Regions from separate parts of the Homo sapiens genome. Here regions 2, 3 and 4 are each reported to be linked to region 1. Evidence: microRNA targets listed by miRTarBase, many of them from high-throughput screens and not tested one by one. Region 1 holds a microRNA gene; each other region holds the end of a gene's coding sequence.

Region 1 (7,126 bases):
TATATGAGGAGAAGCATACGCTTTTTTTTTGGAATTTCTATGCAGTGGCTGTGTCCAGTATCTTTAAAGACCAAGAAATAAAGTCAATTACATGATTGTATATTTAGAAAACCCCATCGTCTCAGGAGGTTTTTCTTAAGCTGACAAGCAACTTCTTCAATGTGCAAAATCACAAGCATTCCTATACACAAATAACAGACAGAGAGCCAAATCATGAGTGAACTCCCATTCACAATTGTTACAAAGAAAATAAAGTACCTAGGAATACAACTTAAAAGGGATTGAAGAACCTCTTCAAGGAGAACTACAAACCACTGCTCAAGGAAATAAGAGAGGACACAAACAAATGGAAAAGCCTTCCATGCTCATGGATAGGAAGAATCAATATCATGAAAATGGCCATACTGCCCAAGGTAATTTATAGATTCAATGCCATCCCCATCAAGCTACCAATGACTTTCTTCACAGAATTGGAAAAAACTACTTTAAAGTTCATATGGAACCAAAAAAGAGCCCGCATCGCCAAGTCATAAAGGTGTACTGTGGTGTGGACTAAACTATAGCATAGGGCTGAAGAGTTGATATTCTCCTAAGGTATGAAAATAAAGGTGTATTGTGGTGTGGACTAAACTATAGCATAGGGCTGAAGAGTTAATATTCTCCTAAGATATGAAAATAAAGGTGTACTATGGTGTGGACTAAACTATAGCATAGGGCTGAAGAGTTAATATTCTCCTAAGGTATGAAAATAAAGGTGTACTGTGGTGTGAACTAAACTACAGCATAGGGCTGAAGAGTTAATATTCCCATAAGGTATGAAAATAAAGGTGTACTGTGGTGTGGACTAAACTATAGCATATGGCTGAAGAGTTAATATTCTCCTAAGGTATGAAAATAAAGGTGTATTGTGGTGTAGACTAAACTATAGCATAGGGCTGAAGAGTTAATATTCTCCTAAGATATGAAAATAAAGGTGTACTATGGTGTGGACTAAACTATAGCATAGGGCTGAAGAGTTAATATTCTCATAAGGTATGAAAATAAAGGTGTCCTGTGGTATGGACTAAACTACAGCATAGGGCTGAAGAGTTAATATTCTCCTAAGGTATGAAAATAAAGGTGTACTGTGGTGTGGACTAAACTATAGAATAGGGCTGAAGAGTTGATATTCTCCTAAGGTATGAAAATAAATGTGTATTGTGGTGTGGACTAAACTTTAGCATAGGGCTGAAGAGTTAATATTCTCCTGAGGTATGAAAATAAAGGCATATTGTGGTTTTGCAAGCTGAACGTAAACAGCTTTAGTGGACTCTACTAACAGGTGAAAAGGAAAAAGCACGTATTATATCAATAGCTGCATACCGGATACCAGGGCATGCGTTAATGCACTCAAGCAATGCAACTACATCTGGTACAACAGCTGTAATTGGTGTTACCACGTGGGTAAAGCTTATGATAATTCATTGTCATTCTCCAAGATCCATCTGTTTTCTGCACAAGCAAATAGGCAAGTTAAATGGGCATGTGGTGGATATCAGCACCCCTACATTCTGAGTTGGGAAAATAACCATAGGATGGGATCAGGGATCCACTGGACCAACTGCAAAATGCACCTTGGCTATAACTCCATTATTCAACTGACCTATAAGCCCCTACTCTGATATATTGCAGCAATGTTTTAGGTCTCCTGGAATCAGTTTGGATCCAATGTTCAGTATTGATTACTTGTTTTTCTCCTAATGCAAAGTCACCCTGACAAAAGGCTATACATCCCTTTTGGAAAGGATGGGGAAAGATTAATGATATAAATTTTTTTGGCAGTATAGCGAAGTCCTTCCTCAAGGGAACCTGGCCTCCCTTTCATTCAAGGAGTTCTGGATCAGTAATTGGCTCCATTCTGGGAATTGATAGAGGTGCGCTTTCTGCTTTTATGATTCAATTTAGACTCCTATTTCTTGACCTAGATCAATTAGACAAATAGTCCGACTCACAGATAACTTATGGAATTGGCTAATTGATCTTGGTGTCCCTAGGGGTAGAATAGATGGAGAGTGTGCTAAATTCTTACCTGATCTGTATAAGCTAAAGAAAGAGTTCTAGGTCAGGAATAAATAATCGGAAATTTTCAATTTCATTTGTAGTGTAGACCAGCTTTTGTTTGAACCAATCAACTAAACTGTTAGATCTTTTTCTAACCCCTCATGCTGCACTATTAAATGAAGGATCTCTGCTTAGCTGGCCTGTATCAATAAATTTAGCCAGATCCAACGTTATGTTCCTACTATCCCACAACCTTAATACTTATTTCTCACATATTCCCAGGGTTTCTGTGTGTATAAATTGAAAAAATTATGTAGTTCTTTTGGCTTCTGGCATATCTACTCATGGGGTACACTTCGACCTCAGCTTTCTGCTAGAACTTGAGTCTAGGTACAAGTCTAGAATAAAAGAGTCGTGGGAGGGGGGCGCTGAGGAGGATTAACAGCATCTTGCAAGGAAACTACCTGGGGACGGGGCATTACAGTTTCCTCAGTCAATGCAGGTTTAATCTCTAAATGATGGTGAAAGGGACACTTCTAAAATTCAGTAAAATTTAAGAGTACAATTCCCTTTTCTTCATTTATAGTATTTTCAGATGACCCATTCAAATTTTGAGGATCCCATTTCTTCCTTAATCCTTACTCTTAAGATCTTCAACAGATTGGGTGAGACTCACCCACGTTATGGAGGATATCTGTTTCATTTAAGGTCTACTGATCATCAATGTTAACCTCATCAGACAGCAACATCCAGACTGGTGTATTTAGATTAGTGTTTAACAGAAGTGGATACCATAGCCTAGGCAAGTTGACACACAAAAACTAACCATCACAATGTATGAAATATTCAGTATGGGTGTCTATTTTTATTTTTTCTTTTGGTGTATTTTTAATATTTAGGGAAGTTTATAATTTTGCTCTAGAAATTGCATGAATGATTTTACGTTTGTAAAATATCCTTTTTCTTCAATTCTTTTAAACACCATGAACATGAAGTTGTATAGTTTTCCTTTCCCCTTTCCAGGATACCATCACCCACATTTAATAGATATCAATAACTTTCGAGTGTTTTTCATTGTTTCCTTAAATAGACTTGATCTTTTACTATTTGATTTGTAGCTTTAAATAATACCCTTTGACATCTAGCAATTACGATGATGTAATCAGAAAACTAACTTTATTTTTTATCTTCTTATCAAAGCCATCTGTTCCGTTTTGTGTTAGATGAATTATTTCCACATTATCAGAGCATATACAATATATAATCTATTCTGTCAACTTTAGCCTTTCTTTCATTTATTTGTTAAATAGCAATTACTCCTTTCCACCTGGAGTTCATCCCCTCATAATGTTGTCAAGGAGGCTTCCGCAAACAGTATTCACAAAGTTTCTTGCATGTTCAAAATGTGTTTTGTTTTTAAACTTCAAGAGCACCTGCTTTGTCTGACTCTTTCTTTCCTAAATTATCATAGATTTTTCTACACTCTCTCTCCTGGGTAGAATGTGGTTGTGGTTGTGACTATTTCACATTATAAAATGATGACTGTATAAATTATTATACAAACTAGAAGGGGTTTTGGAGTGAAATGGGTCAATATCATGGTATAATAATTATACCAGCATCATAGGCATAAAATCTGACTGTTTTGCACCAACTGTAATAAATGGAGTTTTGTCCTGAGACCAGCATGATATGTGTTATTTTACATTATCCCTAGACAAGTTGATAACCACATGGGGAAATGAGACAGGACATGAGAGGAGTCCAAAAATGAGTATGATAATAGAAAAGTCCTGCAAAGAACAGCTTTTACTCAATCCTTCAAAAATAGTCTATTCCTGATTAGAGAAAAAGCGCTTGGAGTATTTAAGCCTCTACACACATCTCTCAATGTTTAAGAGCTGTTAGCAGGAGAACAAAAGTTCGGAGATAATAGTTCTCCAATTCTGTAGACAAATCTGATTCTGGCTACTTGTGCATAGTACATAGTACATGGTGCTAGAGAAGCAGGTACTTACTATGGGGAATAGAATTACATGGGGACTTTATGCAAACAAATGTTTAAGGAATCTGATATGATATGAGTGACACACTAACAGTACACCATAATGCAGGGGAGACTTACTAATATGGTTTGACTGCATCCCCACCCAAATCTCATCTTGAATTGTAGCTCCCATAATTCTCACGTGTTGTGGGAGGGACTCATGGCAGATAATTGAATCATGGAGATGGTTTCTCCTATACTGTTCTCCTGTTAGTGAATAAGTCTCACGAGATCTGAAGATTTATTTCCTCTTTCACTTGTCTGCCAAGACAATGTAGACTTGTCTGTCTACATTCTCTCTTGTCTGCCACCATGTAAGACGTGCCTTTAGCCTTCTCCATGTTCGTGAGTCCTCCCTAGCCACCTGGAACTGTGAGTCCATTAAACCTCTTCTTTTTTATAAAGTACACAGTCTTGGGTATGTCTTTATCAGCAGTATGAAAACTGACTAATACACTTCACTGTCAATCTCTAATTTTCAAATTGTGGCTAGTTACAATTTCTAGGGGAAAAAGTTATACGAAAAGTGTTAGTGGCAGGAAAAAAAGACTCCATCACTTGTTAGTCCAAAGGCCTTAATTGGTATTTTTATCTTACTCCTCTTCCATCTATTCTTGTATACCTCTTGTATATGAGCATGTGCAGACATGTTATAAGTTAAGGTTTCTTTTTTGTCTTTAAATATACTTACATTCCCTCTGGGATAAAATTGTTTAAAAGACTATAATTTTTCTCATTGAATAACCATGGAAATACTTTCAAAAATTTAAGCACATAAAAAATGACATGTTTCTGGATTTTCTATTCTGTTCCATTATCTATACATCCAGTTGTAAACCTCAGCCATACTACCTCTATGACTGGTGCCTAAAAGGAGTATATAGGGAGTCTTGGAAGAAAAAGGTGCTGCTCATCTAATTTTGTTCTTCTTCCTAGAAATCATTTTGTATATAATATGTCCTTTGGATTTCCATATAAAATTTAGAATTAGCTTAACAATTTCTACAAAGAACTTTGCTACAATTGTTTTTTAAATATGCATTGAACATATAGATCAATTTGGGGAGAGATACTATCATAACAACATTAAGCCTTCCAATCTGTAATCACATTATACATTGCAATATATTAGGTTAGTGCAAAAGTAATTGCAGTTTTTGCGTTACTTTCAATCGTAAAAACTGCAATTACTTTCACACCAATCTTAATATTTCGATCTTGTTTTATTTTTCTCAGCAAAGTTTTGAAGATTTCAGTAAACAGGTATGGCATACATTATGCTAAGTTTATTCCTGTGTTCATGTTTTTAACGTTGTTACTAATGGCATGTGTTGTATTAATTTTTATCTTTCTCATATTGCATTGGCAAGAATGTTGATGCAATATTGAATTTCAGTGGTTAGACTGGATATCTCTACTTTGTTCTAGAACTTAGAAGGAAATAATTCGTTTTGTTCATGTAGGGCCAGCTTCATGCACTGTACCTTGTACAGTCATACAAGATTTCATGCTCAGAAGTGCCCTGTTTTTGATTTAACACTCTCTTATTACTGCCTTAAATTTTTAAATAATTTTACCTCTGTGTTTTAAAAGTGCAGTATGATGGGACACTTGAGTACAAGTGTGAGCAGAGATGTCTGTGATATACATGTTCAGTTTCTTACTGTTCTATTCACATACAGCGTTTGTGATGCCACGTGAACGCAGAATTCTTGTGGACCCACAGTGCTTGAAAGTTCAGCAAGACTCTGAGTACAAGATAAGCATTTTATGTCTATAAATGAGTGAGCAAGGTTGACAACTCCAAGAGGCTACACTTTCCATTCAAAACCAGAACTCAATTCAATTGCAAACAAGCAGTGACTTTCCAATAAACACAAACAACCATGGAACCCTATTACATAATTTATTTTCTCTGTTACTTTACTGCATTATTTAACTACCTATGCTGAAAGTGACACAGAAGGAAAGGAAAAGAAAGAAGGAACAATAGTTCTTTTTTTTTGTCCTTGCTTATTACTTATTCCATCTATTTTTGTTGTTGCTTTTTACTTGCTCTTTGTCAGTCTTTTATTATTTTTGTATTTCATTTTAAATACTGTTAATCAACTATAACTATTTTTATGGTTGTTTTGTGTTCACAATATATATCCTTATGTTATTAGTTTATTTTAACATAATACTGTACCATATAAACACACAGTATAAGCAGCGTGTTATGTCCCAAAAACGGTTTCAGAAAATGAAAGGAAACTTCTACATTGGTAATCATTGTTTGATTATGTATACCTTAGCTTCCATCAAATAACAGCTTCCTTGCTTAAAAACTGTAATAGTTCATCTAGTTCAATTTAGTTAGTGATAAATTCCTCTAACTTTTGTTGTTGGGAAAAGTATCAGTTTTACCTTGATTTGTTGTAGATATTTTACTCTATATAAAATTCTAGATTGATGGTTATTTTTCCTTCCTACTTCAAAGATATTTTATTGTCTACTGCCTGGCATAGTTTCCTTTTTTTTCTTTCTTTTTGCTTTCTTTTCTTTTCTCTTCTTTCTTTCTTTTTTTTTTTTTTTGAGACAGAGTCTCAATCTCAGACAGGCTGAAGGGCAGCATCATGAACACAGCTCACTGCTTGACCTCTCACACTCAAGCCATCCTCCCACCTCAGCCTCCTGAGCAACCAAGACTACAGGCGCAAACCACAATGCCTGGCTATATATATAATTTTTTTTTTTTTTTTTTTTTTTTTTAGAGACTGGGACTCACTATATTGGCCAGGCTGGTCGCAAACACCTGGGGTCAAGCATTCCTCCTGTCTTGGCCTCCCAAAGTGCTGGGATTTCAGGCATGAGCCACCATGCCCCGTCCTGGCATACTTTCTAATGAGAAATCTGTGAACATAGTTATCTTTGATTTTCTATACACTATTACTAGATGTTCATCCACGGCATGTGTGGTTTACATTGTGCAACAGATTGAAGCAGATAAAAGCCATTGTCTGTACATCATACTTCTTTCTAATACATGCTCTGCAATTT
Region 2 (7,126 bases), not on the chromosome of region 1:
TCACAGGTAATGAATTTCAGAATTCGAATTTCTCCCCAACCCCAAAGCCCAAGCATTTCCACGACATCCACAATTAGGAGCAAATTTCTCCTTCACAAGTAGGGATAACAGCAATATTTCTGGATTTTAAATCAAAATCTGTATCTGTATGCATTTCCAAAGCATAGACTGTAACCAAAAACAACAAATAACAGAAAAACCAGCCAACACATAAAAAATGCCTCTCTCATTTTTCCACACTTTTTAATCCAAGCAGGAATAATAGTGTTGATTTGTCAACTGGTAGAGGAGGGCAGGCATACTAATGCCTAAAATAAACGTTTTAGCCAACTTAGAGGACACTCAGAATTGCACATATTAGCTCTGAGCTTGGCCGAGACGCCCAGCATCCTGCAGCTCTCAGCCTCTGTCCTGTCCGCTCAAGGGCACTGCCGGGGTCTCCCTTCTCCTGGAGACTTGGAAGGTCAGGGAAGCGTCGATGCTGTCCTGCTGAGCAAAAGGGCCCTCTCCTCTTGCACATGCTCGAGGTGACCCCCCGGTGAGTGCCTCCCTGGAAGACCCGCTGTGGGATTTGGAGCTCCCCCATGGCCCCATCCTCTTCCCTCCTGGCCTCCCTGCCCCGTGGTGGGGGTATCAGAGCTGCATTTGATCCCTGTCTTGTGTTGCTGCAAAGCTTTGCCTGGCAGACCTCAGAAAGCTAACAGAGGAAACGCCCCAGCTCCATCATCCTCCTGCTCAGCCGACAACATGACTCTCACCAGCCTGCTCCCTGCCCACTGTGATGCTGTTTTAGCTCCCACTGTCCCCCTCTGTCCCCAACCCTGCCTGGAGCCCCTGCACAGTGTTCATACTTTTAGTAGCAGTCAAGTTTATCCGCTCATTCATCATTCACACCTCAGATGAAGCGGGTTTCCTTGATGACTAGGTTTCCTGTGGAATTGCCAGAGGACCTGGTCACAGTTGCTCTCTGTAATAGTGGGAGAAAGAAAGGCAGAAGGCCAAGGCCAGGAGCTGATGCCTGGCATGTAAAACTCACCTAGCAGAAGCTCCTTTTCTGCTGGTGTCTGATTGGCTCTTTCTCCTTCTTGTCCGCAGCTGAGCACACGGACACCCAGCCCTGGAGACACGCCCTCCATGTACTGTGAGGCCAAGCTGGGGGCGCACACCTACCAGTCTGTGAAACAGCAGCTGTTCAAGGCCTTTCAGAAGGCTGGCCTGGGCACCTGGGTGAGGAAACCACCGGAGCAGCAGCAGTTTCTACTGACTCTCTAGGCTGCGGGCTCCTGGCTGCTGGAGCTGAGCGGGACGCTGGAGGGATGGGACCGTGTCTGGGGGGCGACGTGGCGGGTCGGCCGGTTCCCTGCATTCGTTTTACTTTGGTGTCCCAGAAACACGCGAGTGTGCAATGTTTGGACGAGCAACAACACAAATTCAGAACGTGCCTCTTTCCAGATCGCTGGCCCCAGAACCCTGTCCCCCACACCCAGGGGCACATGCACTGTTGAGTTAGCGCCGACTCTTCCTGTGGAGTCTGAGGGAGGGGCTCCATTCAGGCAAAGGGGTTTTAGCTGCAGCCTTGGAAGGAGGCACCGACACGACACCAGGCAGGAGTGAGCCTCAGGCCCCGTCCCTGCACCCCACCCCTGCGTGCGCCTCTTGGTGATGCTGGGGTCTCACTAGCTTGAGGGGGCACATGAAGATAAGCCACAAATGAAGAGAAAAGCCATGCCCACCCCAGCCCCAGAGAAACCAATAAGAATCCTCTATTATTTTCACTATTCATTTAGGTTTTTATACTCCACCTCCTTTCAAAAAAGATTTAAGATGTACGACATTACCGAACACCTAAAATAGAACCAGAGAAACGAAAGCCATTCCCACAAAGTGAAGGAACAGTTTCCAAAACCCCTGCGAGGCAGAGTTAAGACCTGTGACGTGGGGAGCCTGGAAACACCCGGCCCACGCGTGCTGCAGATGTGGGGAGCCTGGAAACACCCGGCCCACGCGTGCTGCAGATGTGGGGAGCCTGGAAACACCCGGCCCACGCGTGCTGCAGATGTGGGGAGTCTGGAAACACCCGGCCCACGCGTGCTGCAGATGTGGGGAGCCCGGAAACACCTGGCCCATGCCTGTTCAGTCCGTCATGGCGTTTGGTTTATGGTGGCCGATACTAAGAGCCACTGAGGTCTGGGTTGTGTAAGGGTTAGCTACCACCCTATAACCTCCCTACCAGGTAATAAGGAGACCAAGTCTTTGATCAAATTCTGATTTTTTAACTAAATTTTCATTAGAAAGCAAGCACAAAATAAAATCAAAACAACCTTTACCTTCAGCTTGAGAGGCTACCAGCTCTCTATTCTTTCAGATTCTCCAATCAACACCTTGCAGGACAAGACCCCAAAAAAGTTCAGCTGTCAAAAAATGTAAGAGGCAGGATTCTGTGACCCTCAGAGCAGGCTTCCAACACCAGAGACCTTCAGCTCACAGTGGAGATGGGACATGGGGGCTTTAGCCCACAGCATCATCCCTGAGAGCCAAGGCGCTGTATTCATACGGGGTCAGGCTCTTTTCCAAGTATCTTTACGTAATCCATGTACCTCGAGCTGCTGTCATCTCACCTCCGAGAACTCATTTCTAACATTCATCATGCTAGATAGCCAGTCTCTCATTTCTCCAACTTAAAAAATCCATCTCTGAAATTCATGACAGTGATGGCAGACGGCAAAGCATGGTGGTGTCCACCTCTGGGGTGTGGGCTTCCCGGAAAGAATCCCAGCTGACCACCCCAGAAAGTGCAAGAATAACATTGTGCTGTACATAGTCAAGTGCTATAAATTACAGTTATCATAATGAGAAGGCAGAAATGAAACTGAGTTGTAGCTATTTGTTACAAGATAATAAGAAGTAGAGATATTAGTATGGAAAAAGAAACTTTTCCTGGGATTTAAAATCAGGCCAAATTTATCACTCGAGTTCTTTTAGAAAAGAAAACAGGTACTGGAGTAGACAACTTCTTCCAGATAAAGTTTCAAAAGATACGAGAACATTTTTTCAAATAAAGGACTCACATTAATCTTTTATAAAAATCACAAAAATAAATGAAATCTTAATTCAGTGCAAAAGCTAAGCTCAAACGACCAGTTTCTATTAAGTTCTGGTAACTTGACATCACTAGGATGAAGCTTAGAGAACTTAGAGTCGAGAGGTGATGGGTGGCTCAGACATTCGCAGCAGTCAGAAGTGAGCGCTCCCCTGAATGCGTGGGAGCACGGCCAGCTCCTGGCTGAAGTCTCCCACCCAGGCCTCAAATCACCTTCATCTGAGATGTTGGCTAGAGAAGCATATAATGCTTTGTCCCAGTGGGCTCCAAATCACGCTGTTTCTGCAGCGAGGGGGCCTGTGTTGTAAGCAGATTTCACTGTCACAGGGAAGACGCAGGGTCTGATTCACGGGACTCGGAAAGCGCTCGGCCACCCAGTGGCCAGCATCATGAAGCCACAGCTGGGGGGTTGGGATTCGTTTTGTCTCAGGCATTGACCTTCCAGAAACAACTCAGACTTTACTGAAATATCAACATCCACATCTGGAGAAAGCCACACATTAATTCCATGCTACCCATTAGTACAAGTGTATGGATTCGTGTATTAAGTCCACAGGAGACTCCATGGAAGGAGAGATTAAAGCTCTTCAGAGAAGGCCGATAGCGACAGAAGAGTTTCCAATGCAGCCAGAGTGAGGTTGAGGTGCCGGAGCCTTTCCGTGGAGGGATCTGTCAGAGGGGATGTGGGCTGCAGAGGGGACCCCACGTAAGGAAAGGAGGGTCCCAGGCCCTGGGTAGTGAAAGGAGAAGGTAGTCGAGGCAGTCAAGGGTGACCCTACACGCAGGAGGCACGCCACACCAGATCACGCCACACGCAGGCTGCTCCCAACTGGCAGGGCCTGACCCAGCCAGGAAGGGCCAGGTCCTAGGATTCCACAGTGCCAGGAGTGCCCGAAGGGGCCAGGTCCCAGGATTCCCACAGCCCCAGGTGTGCCTGGAAGACCCGGGTCCCAGGATTCCCACAGCCCCAGCTATGCTTGGGGGGGCCGAGTCCCAGGATTCCCACAGCCCCAGGTGTGCCTGGAAGACCCGGGTCCCAGGATTCCCACAGCCCCAAGAGTTCCCGGAAGAGCTGGGTCCCAGGATTCCCACAGCCCCAGCTATGCTTGGGGGGGCCGGGTCCCAGGATTCCCACAGCCCCAGGTGTGCCTGGAAGACCCAGGTCCCAGGATTCCCACAGCCCTGGATGTGCCTGGAGGGGCTGTGCCACCTCTGCAGAGATGGAAGGGCTCGTGTTGAAGCCTGAGGATTTCGCCCTCAGGTCCAGGTCAGAACATCCCAGCACCACTTTCAGGCCATGTCTGCCCTGCAGTTTTGACCACTGAATTGGTCTTAAGAGTGGCCACCCATTCCCCTCCAAGTGAGGGGGCAAGACACAAGTAGGGGACGGGTCACTTTCTGTCACCCTGAAAATACGCTGGGCACGACACAAGTAGGGGATGGGTCACTTTCTGTCACCCTGAAAATACGCTGGGCACGACACAAGGGGGGCTGATGAAGTCAGGCCCGCCCCTCCAAGTCCACCTCGAAATCACCGTCTGGCTTCCTCGCACTTCCCACCACCTGACACCGCCAAGCCCCTTGCTTCAGATTTTCTGTGGTCTGTATTCATACCCTTGCTTCAGATTTTCTGTAGTCTATATTCATGCCTGCTTAGGCCCCTACAAAAGTCCTCATAAAACCAGCACCACCTTTATCTGCCTCCAAAACACACACTGCTTTCCCATCAGGAAGATCAGCAATGTGGTTTCCGGCCTGGTTCTTAGTCAAAAAGTTAGTGTCTGGTGGTTTCTGGCCTTTTTGCAGGACGGGGCGCAGGGAACGGCTGCGCGGCCAGGCAGCCTCCGCTGTCCACCTCCAGCCCCGGTTTTGCAGCCGTGTGTGATATCAAGGGATAGAGTTAGGGTTTCTGTGGGTTTTGTTTTTGCTGAGGAAAGGATGTGCAGGTCGATAGCTATTGTTTCCTTTCCATTCCTGTGATTCTCTTTACATCTGTATATATCTATCACACCATGCTGACTTTGTGATGAGTCCTGTTCCTCAGAAACATCAAGCTGGGTTCCTTTTCAAAGAAACACACAGATCATATTTCTCCATCTCATTTTGTTTTCACAGGGAGCTTTTCTTATCAACAAAGTCGCATGCTTTTTTTTTTGGATATAATGTTTATCACGTCTGGAGAGCCATAAACAGTAAATACAGAGGATATCAATGCCCAGAATAGTTATTTTGATGAAATCCTATTTTTAGATAATAAATTTCAAGATGTGTCTATAGTGTATTGTTTAAAACAACTGAAGACATTTGAGACGTACATAAAGTAGACATTTTTAATTTAGGGAAACTTATATGCCCTTTTTTAAGAAGCCATTCTAATAAAATAATCTGACTAATTGGCCCAAAATACAATAAGTATCACTTTCTAACAGAGACCAAAGGGAAGCTGAGAGGCTTTCCTTTTATGTACTACCGTTGGATCGCTGCAGCCGCCTCTCATAACACCCAACAGAACCCGGTGAGGCTCTGTGGGCTTCCCGCGGCCCTCAGGGAGGCTGCAGAGTCCCCTAGTCCATGTCAGGGAGCCGCCATCCCACATACCTCCAAAGCCTGTCCTCGCCTGCAGTTTTTGCAGAGCTCGCGGTTGGAGGTGGAAATTTAGAAGCCCTGTGTTGCAGGAGAGGCAGTAGCACCCCCAGGCAGCTCTTAGCAGGGACAGACCACCCCCCGCCTCGCTGGTATTTTAGGGTCTTTTGGTATTTTGCCACTGTGTGGGGCTAGGCGGGTGGCTGGAGGACACGGTGTAGGCCTTGCCGCTGTCTGGGTTCCTCGCCACTGCAGGAGCAGGGCTGTTTCTGGAAACACTGGGCTGCTGGTGACCCGTCAAACTTCTCCCACAAATTCTGAATCCGAGAAAGTGAAGGAAGGATGGTGGGGAAGTGAGGAGGCAGGAGCAGAGGCCACAGGGACCAACCAGAGATGCGGTGGAGACAGAGGAGCTTCCTTCTCAGGCTGTTTCTGGGAAGCCTGAGAGGCGGCCAGCACCACCCTCCGCTCACTCTCCCCTCAGCCTCTTCGCTTCCCTTCTCAACCCTTTCTCTCCTCCTCGCCTCTTCCCTTTCTTGCTGTCTTGTTAGTCCCTGTCCCAAAACTCCTGGCTCCTTTGTTCTGCTGCCGTGGCCCCCACCCAGGAGGAGGTCTCAGGCACCATCCCCCCACGAGGGATCCACACAACAGGTTCATGCTGGGGCTGGGGGAGCCCCGCTGGGTTCCTGATGCCTTGTGCACAGGGAGTTGCTGCAGTCATTTTTGGACTCTCCTGAATGTGTCCACATGTTCTGACCTCCCACCAGAAGGAACGCTGGTGGCCACATCTCTAGAGATCTATTTACTTTTTTGAGACCGGCTTATGAGATTGGCTAATTTTTGTATTTTTGGTAGAGATGGGGTCTCACCATGTTGCCCAGGCTAGTCTCGAACTCCTGGCCTCAAGTGATCTGCCCACCTCGGCCTCCCAGAGTGCTGGGATTACAGGCATGAGCCACCGCGCTGGCCTCTAGAGATTCACACCAAACAATATCACTCCTGCGGGAACCGCAGACAGATCAAACCCTGGTGAGAGGAACACTTTATTTCCCAACTCATCATCCTAAGCCAAGGTTGGAGGGATGAGCATTCCCTAAACACCAAGGCGAGATCACCTGGTCCCAGTGCCTCTTTTCACACAGGCCCTAGATTTCTATCTCTCTGCAGTTTATGCATCGGTAAAAAAAAAAAAATCTCTCCCAGTGTGCCCCGTTAGTTTTCAGCATTTTGTAAGCAAAATGAACTTAACACATAGTAATTCTAATTGAAGGTATGTACATAAAAAGCATGATAGAATGGCAATATTGTATCAATGGATGTACATTTGTAATATTTGTAAAAAAAAATCCAAAACCTTAAAATATGAATTTACATGTTAATTTGCCTCTAAGTTCTATAAATTGCACTTCAGTGATATCTAATAAGTGAATGTTTCTGTTAAGT
Region 3 (7,126 bases), not on the chromosome of region 1:
AATGTAACAGCTAAACTTAAAACCTCTCAGAAGAAAACATAGGGGAAAATCTTAATAAAATTGAATTTGGCAATTATTTCTTGGATATGACATCAGAAGCATAGGCCCAAAAAAGAGAGAGAGAGAAGAAGAAGGAGAAATAGCTAAATTGGATCTCATTACAATTAAAAACTTTTATTAATCAAGGGACATTATTGAAGTATAAAAATACAACCTACAAAGAGGAGGAAAATATGTGCAAATTATATATCTGATAAAAGATTAATATCCAGAATATATAAAGAACTCCAAAACCTCAACATCAACAACAAAACAATCCAATCCAAAAATGGACTAAGGGCTTGAATAGATATTTCTCCAAAGAAGATATGCAAATGGCCACTAAACACATGAAAACATGCTCAACATCACTAATCATTAGGGAAATGCAAATCAAAACCACAGTGAGATACCACTTCACCACTAGTCATAGGGTGGCTATTGTCAAAAAAAATTGAAAATAACAAGTGTTAGTAAAGGTGCATCGCTGATGGGAATGTAAAATGATGCAGTCTCTGTGGAAGTTTGCTGTGTGAGCACAAAAGTATCTGAGACAGGTCTCAATCAATTTAGAAAGTTAATTTTGCCAAGGTTAAGGATGCACCCATGAACAGCCTCAGGAGGTCCTGATGACATGTGTTCAAGGCGGTTGGGGTACAATTTGCTTTTATACATTTTAGGGAGACAAAATACAATCAATCAATACATGTAAGATTTACATTGATTTGATCTGGAAGGTCAGGACAACTAGAAGTTGGAATCGGGGGGGTCATATGTAGATTATTAATTTTTCTGATGGCAATTTGTTAAAAGAGTTATTATCAAGGGGCCTCAGAAATTTATTTTTGGTTTACAGGTGGTTCCTACAAAAACTTAAATGTGGAATTGCCATATGAGACAGCAGTCCCACTTCTAGGTATATACCCAAAAGAATTAAAAGCAGAGACTCAGACACGTTTGTACACCAATCACCCCAAACATTCATCAACAAAATGTGGTGTGTATCTGTGTGTGTGTGTGTGTGTGTGTGTGTGTGTGTGTGTGTGTGTGTGTGTGTTTCAGCCCCATCCCCATCCCTACCTCAGGAGAAGGGAGAGGAGCTACAGATTGAGTTTAATCACCAATGGCCAATGAGTCAACGAATCATGCCCCAATTATATTTGAGGGAAAATACTTGTAAGTGATAAATAAGTGAGAAATGTTGTAATAAATACAGGTGGCCAGGCACGGTGGCTCACAGTTGTAATCCCAGCACTTTGGGAGGCTAAGGGGGGCATATCACTTGAGCTTAAGGGCTAGAGACCAGCCTGGGTAATATGATGAAACCCCATCTCTATAAAAAATACAAAAATTAGCCTGGGGGTTCAGCACATGCCTGTAGTCTCAGCTACTCAGGAGGCTGAGGTGGGCAGATCACCTGAGCCTGGGGAGGTCGAGGCTGCAATGAGCCGTGGTCACACCACTGCACTCCAGCCTGGGCAAGTGAGATCCTGCCTCAAAAAAAAAAAAAAAGAAAGAAAGAAAGAAAAACTAAGGGTATGGACATAAAAGTGGAAACAACAACAGACACTGGGGACTACTACAGGGGAGAGGGAAAAAGGCTAAGGGCTGATATACTATCTGTTGGGTCCTAGGTACTAGGATGAGATCATTCATACCCTAAACCTCAGAGTCATGCAGTCACACATTATACCCATGTAACAAACCTGCACATGTACCCTCTGAATTTAAAAGTTGAAATTATTTTTAAAAGCCTAGGGGTGGGGGTGGGGGGGCACGATACTGAAATTGGAATGCTCTTTCTTATAGAATGCCGACTACTACCAGCCTGGCCAACATGAAAACCCCATCTCTATTAAACATACAAAAATTAGCCAGGCGTGGTGGCGCACACCTGTAATCCCAGCTACTTGGGAGGCTGACACATGAGAATTGCTTGAACCCAGGAAGCTGCAGTGAGCCGAGATCACACCACTGCCCGCAGCAGAGTGAGACCCTGTCTCAAGAAAAAAGAAAAAAAGAAAAAAAAGAATGCCAACTAGTAAATATAGGATATGAGAAAATCACACTCTTGAATCCCTAGTAATAATTTATTCACACAAGAATCAATTCAAAAGATGCTAAAACAAGTTAACTAGTTAAGGTTTGATGAGGAACAGCTACATGCAGTTATGTGCTACATAGTAACGTTTCAGTCAACAGTGGTCCCATAAGATTATAATACCTTATTTTTACTGTACCTTTTCTAAGTTTAGCTGTGTTTAGATACACAAAATACTATTGTGTTGCAATTGCCTACAGTATTCAGTAGTCACATGCTGTACAAGTTTGTAGGCTAGGAGCAACAGGCTATACCATACAGCCTATTTGTGTAGTAGGCTATACATTTAGCTTTGGGTAAGTATACTTTATGATGTTCACACAATGACAAAATCGCCTAACGATGCATTTCTAGAATATATTCCCATCATTAAGCAATGCATGACTGTAGACAGTCTCAAAGAATCTCAAAATAAGCTTCCTTATTACAAAGGGAAAAAAATAACAACTACAGGGAAGGAACCTGGTGAATGCCATCTCAGCCAAGTGATCAAAGTTATTGCCACTAATGACACAAACCAACATATGTGCCACCTGATGTGACGCCCTGGACAGAGCTGCAGCATCATTCATGTTGTATTTCTAAAATAATGCATAGTCTGAATCAACTTGTAATGAAATGTGAGGCAAAAACAAAATGAGGGCTTATCTGCAAAATAAATGGTCCCCCCTCTCCAAAAAGGTCACTATCATTGAAGACAAAGAAGGGCTGAAGAATCATTCCAGATTAAAGGTGACTAAAGAAATAGGAAAACTAAATGCAATGTGTGATCCTTCCTTGGATGAATCAGGAAGAAAGATTGATATAAATTATATTACTGAGACAACTGGTGAAATTTAAATACAGTCTATAGATAATAGTATTATATCAATCAAGATTTTCCTGATTTTTTTTATCATTGTCTTGTGGTTCTGTAAATGGATGATCTCACAGTCCAGGTAACAGTAAGGGGCATGGTATTTGCAATTTACTATCAGATGATCTAGGAGAAAAAGTATAGATACATATGTGGAGACAGCGAGGGCAACAGGAGTGTGAAAAGAATAAAACAAATGTGACATGTTACCTTGGTGAATCTGGGTGAAGAGTGTATGGGAGTACTCTGCACTATAATTGCAACTTTTCTGTAAGCTTCGAATTGTTTCAGAATGAAAGTTTTTAAAAATGAGCAAGAAAAACTTCCCATAAGTGCGCCATGTTTACACTTCTGGAGAGAGGCTCTTCATACTTGCATCAGGTTCTGACTGTGAACACTCCTCAAAAAAGGGTCAAGACACATGAATAGAAGTGATAAGAAGGGAAAGAAAAATTATGAAAAAAAACTGATACACCTTCTTCCCATTACTTATATTTCTTTTGTTTTAATTTTTTTTTTTTTTTTTTTTTTTGAGACAGGGTGTCATTCTGTTGCTGAGGCTGGAGTGCAGTGGCACAATCATGGCTCACTGCAGCCCTGACCTCTCCAGGCTCAACCTTCCACCTCAGCCTCCCAGGTAGCTGTAACTGCAGGTGTGCACTACCATACCCAGCCGATTTTTGTGCGTTTTCTTGTAGAGACAGGATTTCACCCAGGCTGGTCTTGAATTCCTGGGCTCAAGTGACCCAGTTGCCTCAGCCTCCCAAAGTGTTAGGATGACAGGTGTGAGCCACTGAACCCAGCTTAATTTAAAAACAAAAAAATTTTATTTGATAAGAGGTCTTGTTATGTTGTCCAGGTGGTCTCAAACTCCTGGCCTCAAGCAATCCTCCCAAAGTGCTGGGATTATAGGTGTGTGCCATCATGCCCAGCCATATTTCTATATTTAGTCATATTCTCTGACTCTTATAAATGGGAATTAAACTCAAATAGCAAAGATAAAGATCTGAAGCAATGATGTTAGTCTGAATATCAGGGTTTTAAAAAAAGGTTTTAATTAAAGCAGTAAAACTTAAATATTGTAAAAATAATAGCTTTTGCCACATTAGCAATAAATGCTGTTCTTTCTTTAGTCTTTATTAATAGAACCATGGGCTTGCTCTATCACTCAGGCTGTGCAGTGGCACAATTGCGACTCACTGCAGCCTCGAACTCCTGGGCTCAAGCAATTCTCCCGCCTCAGCCTTCCAAGTAGCTGGGACTACAGGTTCATGACACCACTCCTGGCTAACTTCAGTCTTTAAAACTCAATAGTTGACCCAAAACAAATTTCTCATTCATTTTATATCATTTATTCATTCATTCTGAAATATTTCATCAATTTTGAACCAAACACTGCTCACTGGTGGGGGGAGGAAACTGCAAGTAATCATTAATTGACTCTTCTCATTGACCACAAAATTAAAATATATTTATTACACTGGAAAGTGAAGTTTCTTCATTGTGGCTAGATCAAAGAATATGATTATAGGTGAGAAATGTGTAAAGAGTACAACAAAAAAATCAATTTAAAATGACTATTTAGGGTGGGCGCAGTGGCTCACACCTGTAATCCCAGCACTTCGGGAGGCTGAGGTGGGCGGATCACTTGAGGTCAGCAGTTCAAGACCAGCCTGGCCAACATGGTAAAACCCTGTCTCTACTAAAAACACAAAAATTAGCCAGGTGTAGTGGTACACTCATGTAATCCCAGCTACTCAGGAGGCTCCTTCAGAAGACAGAAGGAGCATTGCTTGAACCTGGGAGGCGGAGGTTGCAGTGAGCCAAGATGGTGCCACTGCACTCCAGCCTGGGAAACAGACACAGCGAGACTCCATCTCAGAAAAAAAAAAAAAAAGATTTTTAAAATGTCACATGTAATTTCTCAAGAAAATTAACTGCAACTCAGGTTTATTTTCACATTGTTTAATTTTATGTACATTTCACATATCATAAATACACACAATACAAAAAGCTATACAAAAACCCTACTAATTCAACATTTAAAAAAGGGAGAGGGAGATACTGCATTTGATTTCTGACACTTTTCTGTTTAAATAATACTTAAATTCAGTTTTCAAGAAGACAACAAATTGAAAATCATTAATTTTTCAGAGGGCTTTGTGTTCACATAAATTCATCATTCAGGCTGGGCATGGTGGCTCACACCTGTAATCCCAGCAAGTTGGGAGGCTGAGGCAGGTGGATCACCTGAGGTCAGGAGTTCAAGACCAGCCTGGCCAACATGGCAAAACCCCATCTCTAAATAAAAACAAAACAAAACATAAATAAATTCATCATTCAAGTATATTTTTATTGAAGCAATAAACCACTTCACTGGCTGTAGAGTCAAACTGGGTAAGCCTCAATATTGAGCAAAAGTAGAGAACTCTTGCTTTCCTCAGCCTAGAATCAGCTTCTAACACACGAAATGCAGAGCACAACAGTGATTTTTAAGCTGGCATTATTAAGACCACAGTATAGGGCTGACAATGCACAGCACACCCTATATTGTTTGCCTATAGACTCTTGTTAAAAATATCATACTAAAAATAATAATTAGAAATTTTATTTTTCCTAATTTTTTATTCAATTTAAAAAATAATACATCTTTTTCATTGTGCTTGGCAACTGGACATGACATAATTTAAACACACAATGGAGAAAATATATACATAACTGCTAAAGGATTTTGACATTGTTTAAATTAATTATTTTATTATTTTGGTTCAACAGTTATCAATCACAGTAAATATAAATAACAAAATAATATCATTCATCATACGATCATGTTTTTAAAAAGTGAATTGTTGAGGCACAAAAACATTACGTGACTTGCCCAAGGTCATGAAGGGAATGAGGGGCAGACAACAGCATGTTTTTTCTAACTTAAACAACTATACTAACCCCTAGCTTATACCATCTTTCAAAATCAGCTCAGGGCGACAGATACAGAAATTTAACGCATTATCCAGGAATGTTTGTTTAACCTAAACTGCTGTTATTAATAAACTTAAGAATCTATATGTTTAGCATAAATTGTTAGGAATTTACAAATAAGACATCTTTTTCTGAATTACTAGGTGTGTAATTTGTTAGTATTTGACACAATTGCAAAAACAAAATTGACTATTTTAAAGAAACGAATTCTGTGAAAGATGCTTATTAACATGATTTTTTTAAAAAATACTAATTATAGGACCTACAAAATTCAGAAGACAGTACCTTAGATACAAACATTTAATATAAATGTACTAAATCATCTTCTAGTTGACCCTTTGTTATCAATGAAAACGTTCTAACAAAGCACTCATAATGTTTCCTGGTATTCTTTGGTGCTTATCAATCAAAGCTTGAACAGCATTCTTCGTCTATTAAGAAAACAAAAGAAAAGCTATTGTTAGTAGATCTTAATATAGACTGATTTATCTCCCATTACCCCTCAGAATTAATGATTTCCTTCTCAGTACACCTGAAGCTTATATATTTCTCTTTTTTATAGAGATGGGGTTTCACTATGTTTCCCAGGCTGTTCTCGAACTCCTGGGGCTCAAGCAATTCTCCCACCTTGGCCTTCCAATGTGCTGGGATTACAGGCATGGGCCACTGTGCCTGGCTGCAGCATATTTCTTATACTTATTTTATTAAGCCTTCAATTATAGTTGTTGTCCACGTGTCTATTTTCTATATCAGACTGTAAGCTCCTTAAGATACATCTTAGAATTTCTCCAGCATTAAGCACAGCAACACCTTGCACATGATAAACACTAAAGGGGACTTAAAGAGGAAAAAAAATAGAAAAATTTCGAGTAGGCAAATGGAAGACTTAGTCCTTTCCAGCTATTAGTAAATTCTAATGTATATTTTCTTTTATCACCATACATACTGAACAATTATATCAGGGTCTCACTGTGTTGCTCAGGCTGGTCTCGAACTCCTGGACTCAAGGGATCCTCCTGCCTTGGCCTCCCAAAGTGCTGGGATTACAGGCATGAGTCATCATGAACTATGTATTTACATACATATATACTTCCTTTTCTAGACTTTAACCTTTAAAGAAAATAAACACTAGGCCAAAGATGTATTATAAA
Region 4 (7,126 bases), not on the chromosome of region 1:
TTATGTATTATTGCATTTAAAAGTGACACAAAATCTCTATTCTCTCTACTCTTTCTCCTTATTGTCCTTTTCCTCATCCTATTCTTATATTCATATCTTATCCTATTATTATCTTATATCCTCATCTATTCTGTCTTACGCTCACACACACAACTTTAGCAAGTCTTTTTTTTCCATGATAGGCATCTAATGCCTATTTAATATTGAGATAAAATAGTGTAAATGACACTTAGGAAACAAAATCTCTCAATTTTTTAATGCTTTCACCTTCATTTTCATTCCCTCTTTAGGAAATAATTTAAGTTTATTTAAATTTAATCAGTTTATCAGTTAATCCTGTAATTATTTTTTCTTTGATAATTAGTTCCGTTGCTGTTCTTTTTCATTTGCATGTGCAGTTGTGTTTTAGCTTATAGTCTTTTCAGAAGTTAATGAGGTCTGCTAAGAGGCATATTGCCACAGCAAAAGCCAATTGGCTGGAATGCAGCAGCAGGGGAAGAATTCATTACCAAGGAGAATTCTAAAAGGGCAGCTGCTTACTAAATGCTACAGCTATTAAGATGGCAGCTTCCTGCCATGACAGAGCATGTTTCATTGATTTTCCTCTTTCCCATTCTCATATTGTTTCCTAATGACAAATTGAGACAGAAGCCCCACCTGCTATCAAAGGCATGTATAAGTGGGTTTTCAAATTATGTGCTTTCCTAATCATAAACTGTTGCTGCCTAAACAAGAGGGGGTTTTACTTTTTAAAAATCTATAACTGTTCCATGAAATTCTCAAGATGAAGGTTGATTTTATTTGGATATTCTACTAGGACATTTAACAGAAACATACAAATTTTGATCTTTTGGTTGATACAATCATTAAAGTTAAAAAATGACGGTCAAAAAAGGTGCATTCTTGTTGCTTTTTTTTCATATGTTTTTTAAAGACTGGAATTAAGCCTCCTGTTATTTCTATTTAGTTTATCATAATAATCATTTCACTGTAATTTTTTTCCATTTGGAGATGTTTTATTGGAAAACATCTATCCTACACTAGAAATTTGTGATATCTCAAAGAAAAGAATCTTCCCTAACTGTGAAGAGCTCTTAAGCCTGGTATTGTCTATTTAGAATCATTGGCGGCTCACTATTCTATTTAGAGGCCAGAGGGGATTTTTTTCCTCACTCCAGTGCAAAACATCACCAGCAGTGGTTTTTCTCTAAATGTGCAACATCCACAATTCATAAATTTCTTGATATAGAGGAAGGGAATTCACATTCCTGGGAGAAGTAATGACAAAAAGAGGAGAGAATGTCATCTGCACAATTACCTGGTAATAACTCACTGACGTTGGCTTTATCCTTTCCAGATCTCAATCAGTAGTGGATCCTACAGTACTAAAACGCATGGATAAAAATGAGGAAGAAAACATGCAACCATTGCTTTCTCTGGACTAATAACTTCTCTACATCCCCTTCATGGATTAGAAATGGAAAGTATTGGTTTTCAGCAACAGGGACAACACTGTAGAGGAATTACCAGCTGGAAACCGACTTATTCATGTTAATGTAGCATAATATATAACAAGGCATCAGGCTTTCCTTGGCCTGAACCATGGGGGCCCTGGGCTGGATTTTTAAAATGTCAATAATTTATTCTGTAAGTGCCAAGTTGTTTGTAAATATAATGTAATCTTCATGTCAAGTTTGTAAATTTCAGTAGTAACTCAGTTTGGAAAAAGGTTGGCTCAAAAGTCCATGCCAGTGTTATGAACTATAACAAAAAGCAGAAAAGACACAGTCAAAGCTAATTAAATGTAGCCCTCTTTCCTATGAAGCCATATTTCAGCTCTCATAGTGATTGTTTCATTGTTTTTCTCTGAAACTCTGTCAGTATTCAAACATACTCTTAACGGGCACACACAACTAAGTGATTCCAGGAAATTTTATGATTAATGTATTTCCTGTCTAGTGATTTTCATTTCAGAGAAATGTGTCTTAGTAACTATCATTGGCCTTGCATTTTGGAGGCAAGGAATGGCAGATGAGCTGGTAAACTGAACACTTGAACTCTTCTATGTTGTTTAATTCTTGGAATCTTGTGAAAAGATGTGTTTCCTCAATTAAGACGTAGAAATGTAAAAAAGAGTGGATTCTTTTTAAATTGCTGTCTTCACAATGTGCCCTTTATTCAAGACCCTATTATATTTCTTCCTAATGTACTCTAAGTACATTTCCCCTCCAAAACTCTTTGACTAAGAGAATGAGAACTCATGTGAACAGTGTTCTGACAGCTAATTTTGAACATAAAATTTTCCACTTACAGATGAGGGGCTAATTTCTAATTGTTGTGCACTGGTTAAAAAGTATATATATATATATATTCACACATATATATTTTTACTGAGCTCTAATAAATCCTTAATGTGACAGGCTTATAAAATAAATCATAGATATTCAATGATCTTATGGATAATTACATGAGATAACTCTGGAAAACTACTTCCACTGAAGTTAATGAAAAGGAGAAATAGTGAAACTGACTTTCAGTGTACCTATTTAAAGGAATTCCAAGTTAATTTATAATGCAATCTTACATATGTGCCATCTTATTTGAACTATATTTTTCCTTCAAAGAAGCAATAGGTCTCAACATAGTGTAGGTAGCATCAGGTGACAGAAAGCCAATTTTATTTTCAAATTTAAGTTAATTATCTTCGTGATCCTATTTATCCACAATTTCTTTCAGAAAAGACTGAAAAAACACATTATATTCAGGAGATATAATGAAATTATTGGAAGGCATCTATGACAACATGTAATCATTTATACGTGGATTTAGAAATTTGCATATTTAACATTTTATTTCATAAAATTTATACAATTACAGCAAATCTTAATTTTTTAATTTTAAATTTCAATGTGAAAAAATGATTTTTATCACCCATAATAAATTTTGAGATTGAGAGTTTACCATTAAAGTATTCTTTTGGAAGAAAAATATCTCAGAAACTCTTGGAAACCAACAAAAATAAAGGCATGTGTCAGCCTTCATATTTTTTGGCCAAAAGCTCCCAAAATTTGTTATAATTCTGCAGCCAAAAATTGTAAAAGCAAGCTGAATACACCAATGTACAGTGTATCAATGGACTGCCTCATGTGTGTAAAAATACATTAATTAACACAAATGAAAGATACCTTAATAATGCCAACCTCCAGTCAAGTGCAGAAGAATAATGACTGTCAGGCACTCTGCTCTCCTTGTGACTTTTACAGAGATTGGAATGCACTGGGGACAACATGTCTCAGCAGTTCTTACCTTTATAAGAATTCTAACCATTGATATTCTTACATTCTTGCCTACCTGACATACATTTTGTAGCCATGGGCTTTTTAGACTATATAAATCTTAGGCAGTATAATCCATTGGAATAAAATAGAAACATTGTAAGTGCAGAGGGCAGTCAACTTTTCATTCTCATGAGTTTCTCTTGATGTGTACCATTTATTGCCAGTTTTCAGAATTCTGCCAGTTTCAGATGTCAACCAGCATTGGCAGCTTCTTTCCCCTATCGTAAAGTTAGTGTCATATATAAAAATAACTAGAAAGGCATATTTTATATGTATGCCTATCTAATTATAAGTATCATTCACACTGTCTCCCAGACCCACATTTGGAAAGTTTGCATTGCATTACTGCTCATCTTTAGATGAGCAATTGAGAGTTGGCTAGATTGTGTAAAATATTTTAAAATGAATGAACAAATTACAATGATGATGCCTTTTGAAATTACCATATCTAGTTCATTCTGTGAATAAACTCATTTTCTAGTAATGTTTGTGAACCTTAGTCAAGGGATATTCATTCAACTTTATAAATTTACCCCTCAGCACCAGCTATCTAGCACTGTTTAGGAATTTTTCCCTTCATGATATTCTGTGTCACATCCTATGTCTATGAATAACCTATACACTATAGTTGTATGCCTATAAGCACTCCTATACTCTTGTATTTTAATTGCAATAGTATACCTCCACTCTCTCTCTCTCTCTCATACACACACACACACACACTCTTACACACACACTAACACACTAGACTGTTTGCCCTAATGAATTTTCCTCTGTACTTCGAGAGCTATTTTAGTTGTCTTGTCACTTGAAATTTGCGGGCTTCAAAGAATTATCGCATTTGACTTGGAATGGTCCAGTAGTCCATTTACTTCTTTCACCCTGCCTGTTCCATCTTCTATTTCTGATATTTTTTCTTTCTTCCAGTTATTTCAGGGGCAGGTGATTCCAAAGCTGGTTTAAAAATAAATAACTTCTCTTATGTTGTCAGTGATGTTTGCCTGCATTTTTGACTACTATTTAAGAGGGAAGAGATTATCATGAAAATATACTCTAAGAAATATGAAGAAGTGCCTCTTTGAAAATGGAATAAAGCAACGTTACTGGCATATGGATTTTATTTGTACTCTCTTCCAAAAAGTAAATACGTAAATCTATATTATATAGGTGAAATATAGATATCATTTGAAGAAGGATATTTAAGGCCTTTATTTGAACATACTCATACAGTATTAAGTCTCTGTTGTGTAAGTTAAATACAGTAACTTTAGTACATGTTAATGATAAACGTGGCACTAGGCTAAAACGATATACGAGTATTAAACAGAGTTTTGCAAGCAAGTTTTTGAAGTGGGCATGCATGAATTCTTTCATTTCAGTAATGGTTTGCATAAGTGTAGACAGAGATATTTCCTAAGTTTTTTCATATAGAATACTTATTTACTTTATAGTACCAAAAATTCATACATTCATAAGCAGGAAAGCCAAAAATTCATACATTAATACTTAGCTTTTTTAATACTGTTAACTAGGTCATATTGTTAAACATGTGAAGCGTCTGTAATATTCCTGAGGGAAAAGAGGTCCCTCTATTGCATCAAGAAATTGGAGAGTTGTTTTAGACATTGGGGAATATGTTTATGACTCTTCACATAAAGAAACCTTCAGAGCCATGGAGTATGTCTTCAGGGACAGGGATCATTTGCTTCTACAATGTAAAGGTTTATGGACATATCTCTGGTCCTTTAAAGAAGTTACATTAAGAAAGCTTGCTGAGAGGCTGTACACTCTTCTGTTGTTTTATTTAAAGGTCTGCCTTGTGTGGTTGGTGAATAATATCTCAGCTTCTTTTTTTGTGTATATTTATTAATGATTACATGAAAAGTTGCCATCAGCCATGAGGACACTTCAAAAATTTTCAACACACTAAATAAAATGAGCAGAGCTCTAGCATGATATTTGAACTTTCAGATATGGTATATGTACATTTTTTACAACAATAAGCTCATAGGCATATATTCCATTGTAGATCTGCTATATAAATACATAGCCTGAAACATAGTAATGCATTTGAAATTTGTGAGGTCACTGATCATACAAGAAGAGGCAGATTATAAACCAACATATTGGAACAAAAGAAGATTGGTTAAATATGCAAGGTGTGTAATTATCTTCAGTAATGAAAAGGATTTGTTTTCTTGTTTTTGTCTTTGGTTTTAGTTGAAAAAATAGCTTCCCATATGCTACTGGAACTATTTGACATTATTTGCTACATGAAAAAAGGCAAATAAGTAAACATACAAAAGAAGCTTGGCTTTGTAACATTATTATATTATGATCTCAATGGCTTAGAGAATATAATCTTTTTTAAGAATTAAAGATTTTATTTTATAAATATTTGGAGGTTAACATAGGACATGAAAATAGTGCTGTGGATTCTGTTATGTACTAACTATGGGAATGAATTCTCCAGTACCATAGGAAAATATATAAGATAACAACTTTGTGGATTGAAACACTCAAATTAGCCTTTTTTTCAAGGAAGCAGGTGTACAAATGATGCTATTGAAATAAAAAAATGTAGAAATCACTTAATTATAGGAGTTAAATATAATCAATGCACTCATGGTAAATAATGGAAATTGTTAAAATTTAGAAGAGTTTTGTCATTATTTGACTTAGATTTAAGTCTCAGTGCAAATATGTCTGTCCTTGATATAGTGCATTTATTCTGTAAGACTTATTTTACCTGGTGAACGAGATGGACTTAGGTGAAAATAAATTTTAACCACAGTTTTAAGGGTCACCCAATCCTCAACTACTTTAAAAAATTGCAATGAATTTTAATTCATTTACTTTTAACAGAGATACAAAGCACTGTCTTGTTTCTAATCCAATTTTTCAATTTTTCAGATTTTATATTTGCTTAAACAATAAATAAAACTCAGAAAACCAAATAGTTTTTGTTTTCAAAGCTATCCAGGAAAAATAAAAGATGTCTAACAGGAAATCATACAAGTCCTTGAAGAATACTGAGTATATTATTTGCTATTTTACTCAAATGTTATTAATTTTTACTACTACAAACTACTTATTTAGTACTACACGGCATTTACTATTTGGCCTTTTGAAGGAGTTATAAATTCCAAAACACTATAATATAATTTTTGGACAAGTATACATTTCTGTTTAAAAGAAATGTATGCTTTTATTTTGTATATTTTATATTTTAAATGTATACATTTATTTTGCACATTGTTAATGTTAAATTTGGTAGTCCTGGATCTGCTGCATCTATAAAATGGAGATTTCTTTAAAAAATCGTCTAAAAATTAGCAATATTTTTATTTTGAGAGAAATTGTGCTTAGCTATTTAAGTTAAGATTCCTCAAGTTTGTGATATTTGTATGTGTGGGGATCAAAGAGGAAAATATATAGTAATTTGTTTCATCAAAATGACGTATTCAATATTCTATAACTTCTAGTCAAACTTTCAAATGAAAGTTTGAAAGAAGTAAACTAATGTTTTAATTACATATAGCAAAGGAATGATCAGTAAATAAAATAACTAGGGTTTTCACATTTGCAATAGAATGACTGGATTAGGCAAGAGATTAAATTTAGAAATTTGAATTACAGAAAAGCATTGGTTTAAATAAATCCTCAAAAAAGTAATCCCAGGTCAAAATATGATGTGAAATTAAAAAAAAAATTCAGCCTGATTTGAGAAAGAATGCTTACTCAATAAATATGTATTTGTGTCTTCTGTGAGTTTCCCTCATTTATCC

Evidence for each region. Region 1 holds the annotated microRNA hsa-miR-548aj-5p (UGCAAAAGUAAUUGCAGUUUUUG, at 5,225-5,247, shown strand). A microRNA usually pairs through its seed, bases 2 to 8, with sites in the 3' UTR of a target mRNA and lowers its output. Matches are read on the target gene's strand: a 7mer-m8 pairs with bases 2 to 8, a 7mer-A1 pairs with bases 2 to 7 and ends in A, and an 8mer does both.
Region 2: miRTarBase lists ADARB2 as a target of hsa-miR-548aj-5p. Seed matches in the 3' UTR shown: 7mer-A1 at 4,899-4,905, 7mer-A1 at 4,968-4,974 and 7mer-A1 at 5,725-5,731.
Region 3: miRTarBase lists TMEM68 as a target of hsa-miR-548aj-5p. Seed matches in the 3' UTR shown: 7mer-A1 at 6,148-6,154 and 7mer-m8 at 5,411-5,417.
Region 4: miRTarBase lists CLVS2 as a target of hsa-miR-548aj-5p. Seed matches in the 3' UTR shown: 7mer-A1 at 4,668-4,674 and 7mer-A1 at 6,585-6,591.

Annotation. Positions count from the first base shown.
Region 1 is chr21:18,684,256-18,691,381 of GRCh38, reverse strand. It overlaps MIR548X (microRNA 548x), which reads left to right and starts at 5,218; the gene lies at 5,218-5,292. All of the region lies in intron 2 of MIR548XHG (MIR548X host gene), which reads left to right.
Region 2 is chr10:1,177,339-1,184,464 of GRCh38, reverse strand. It overlaps ADARB2 (adenosine deaminase RNA specific B2 (inactive)), which reads left to right. Exons shown (of 10, transcript NM_018702.4): 10 at 1,096-7,126. The coding sequence ends at 1,272. Among named protein-coding and RNA genes, the nearest start is that of LINC00200, 21 kb to the right of the region's middle. RefSeq lists an enhancer at 1-9.
Region 3 is chr8:55,733,813-55,740,938 of GRCh38, forward strand. TMEM68 (transmembrane protein 68) reads right to left here. Exons shown (of 8, transcript NM_001286657.2): 8 at 4,946-6,406. The coding sequence ends at 6,320. Among named protein-coding and RNA genes, the nearest start is that of TMEM68, 36 kb to the right of the region's middle.
Region 4 is chr6:123,062,317-123,069,442 of GRCh38, forward strand. It overlaps CLVS2 (clavesin 2), which reads left to right. Exons shown (of 6, transcript NM_001010852.4): 6 at 1,358-7,126. The coding sequence ends at 1,445. Among named protein-coding and RNA genes, the nearest start is that of CLVS2, 70 kb to the left of the region's middle.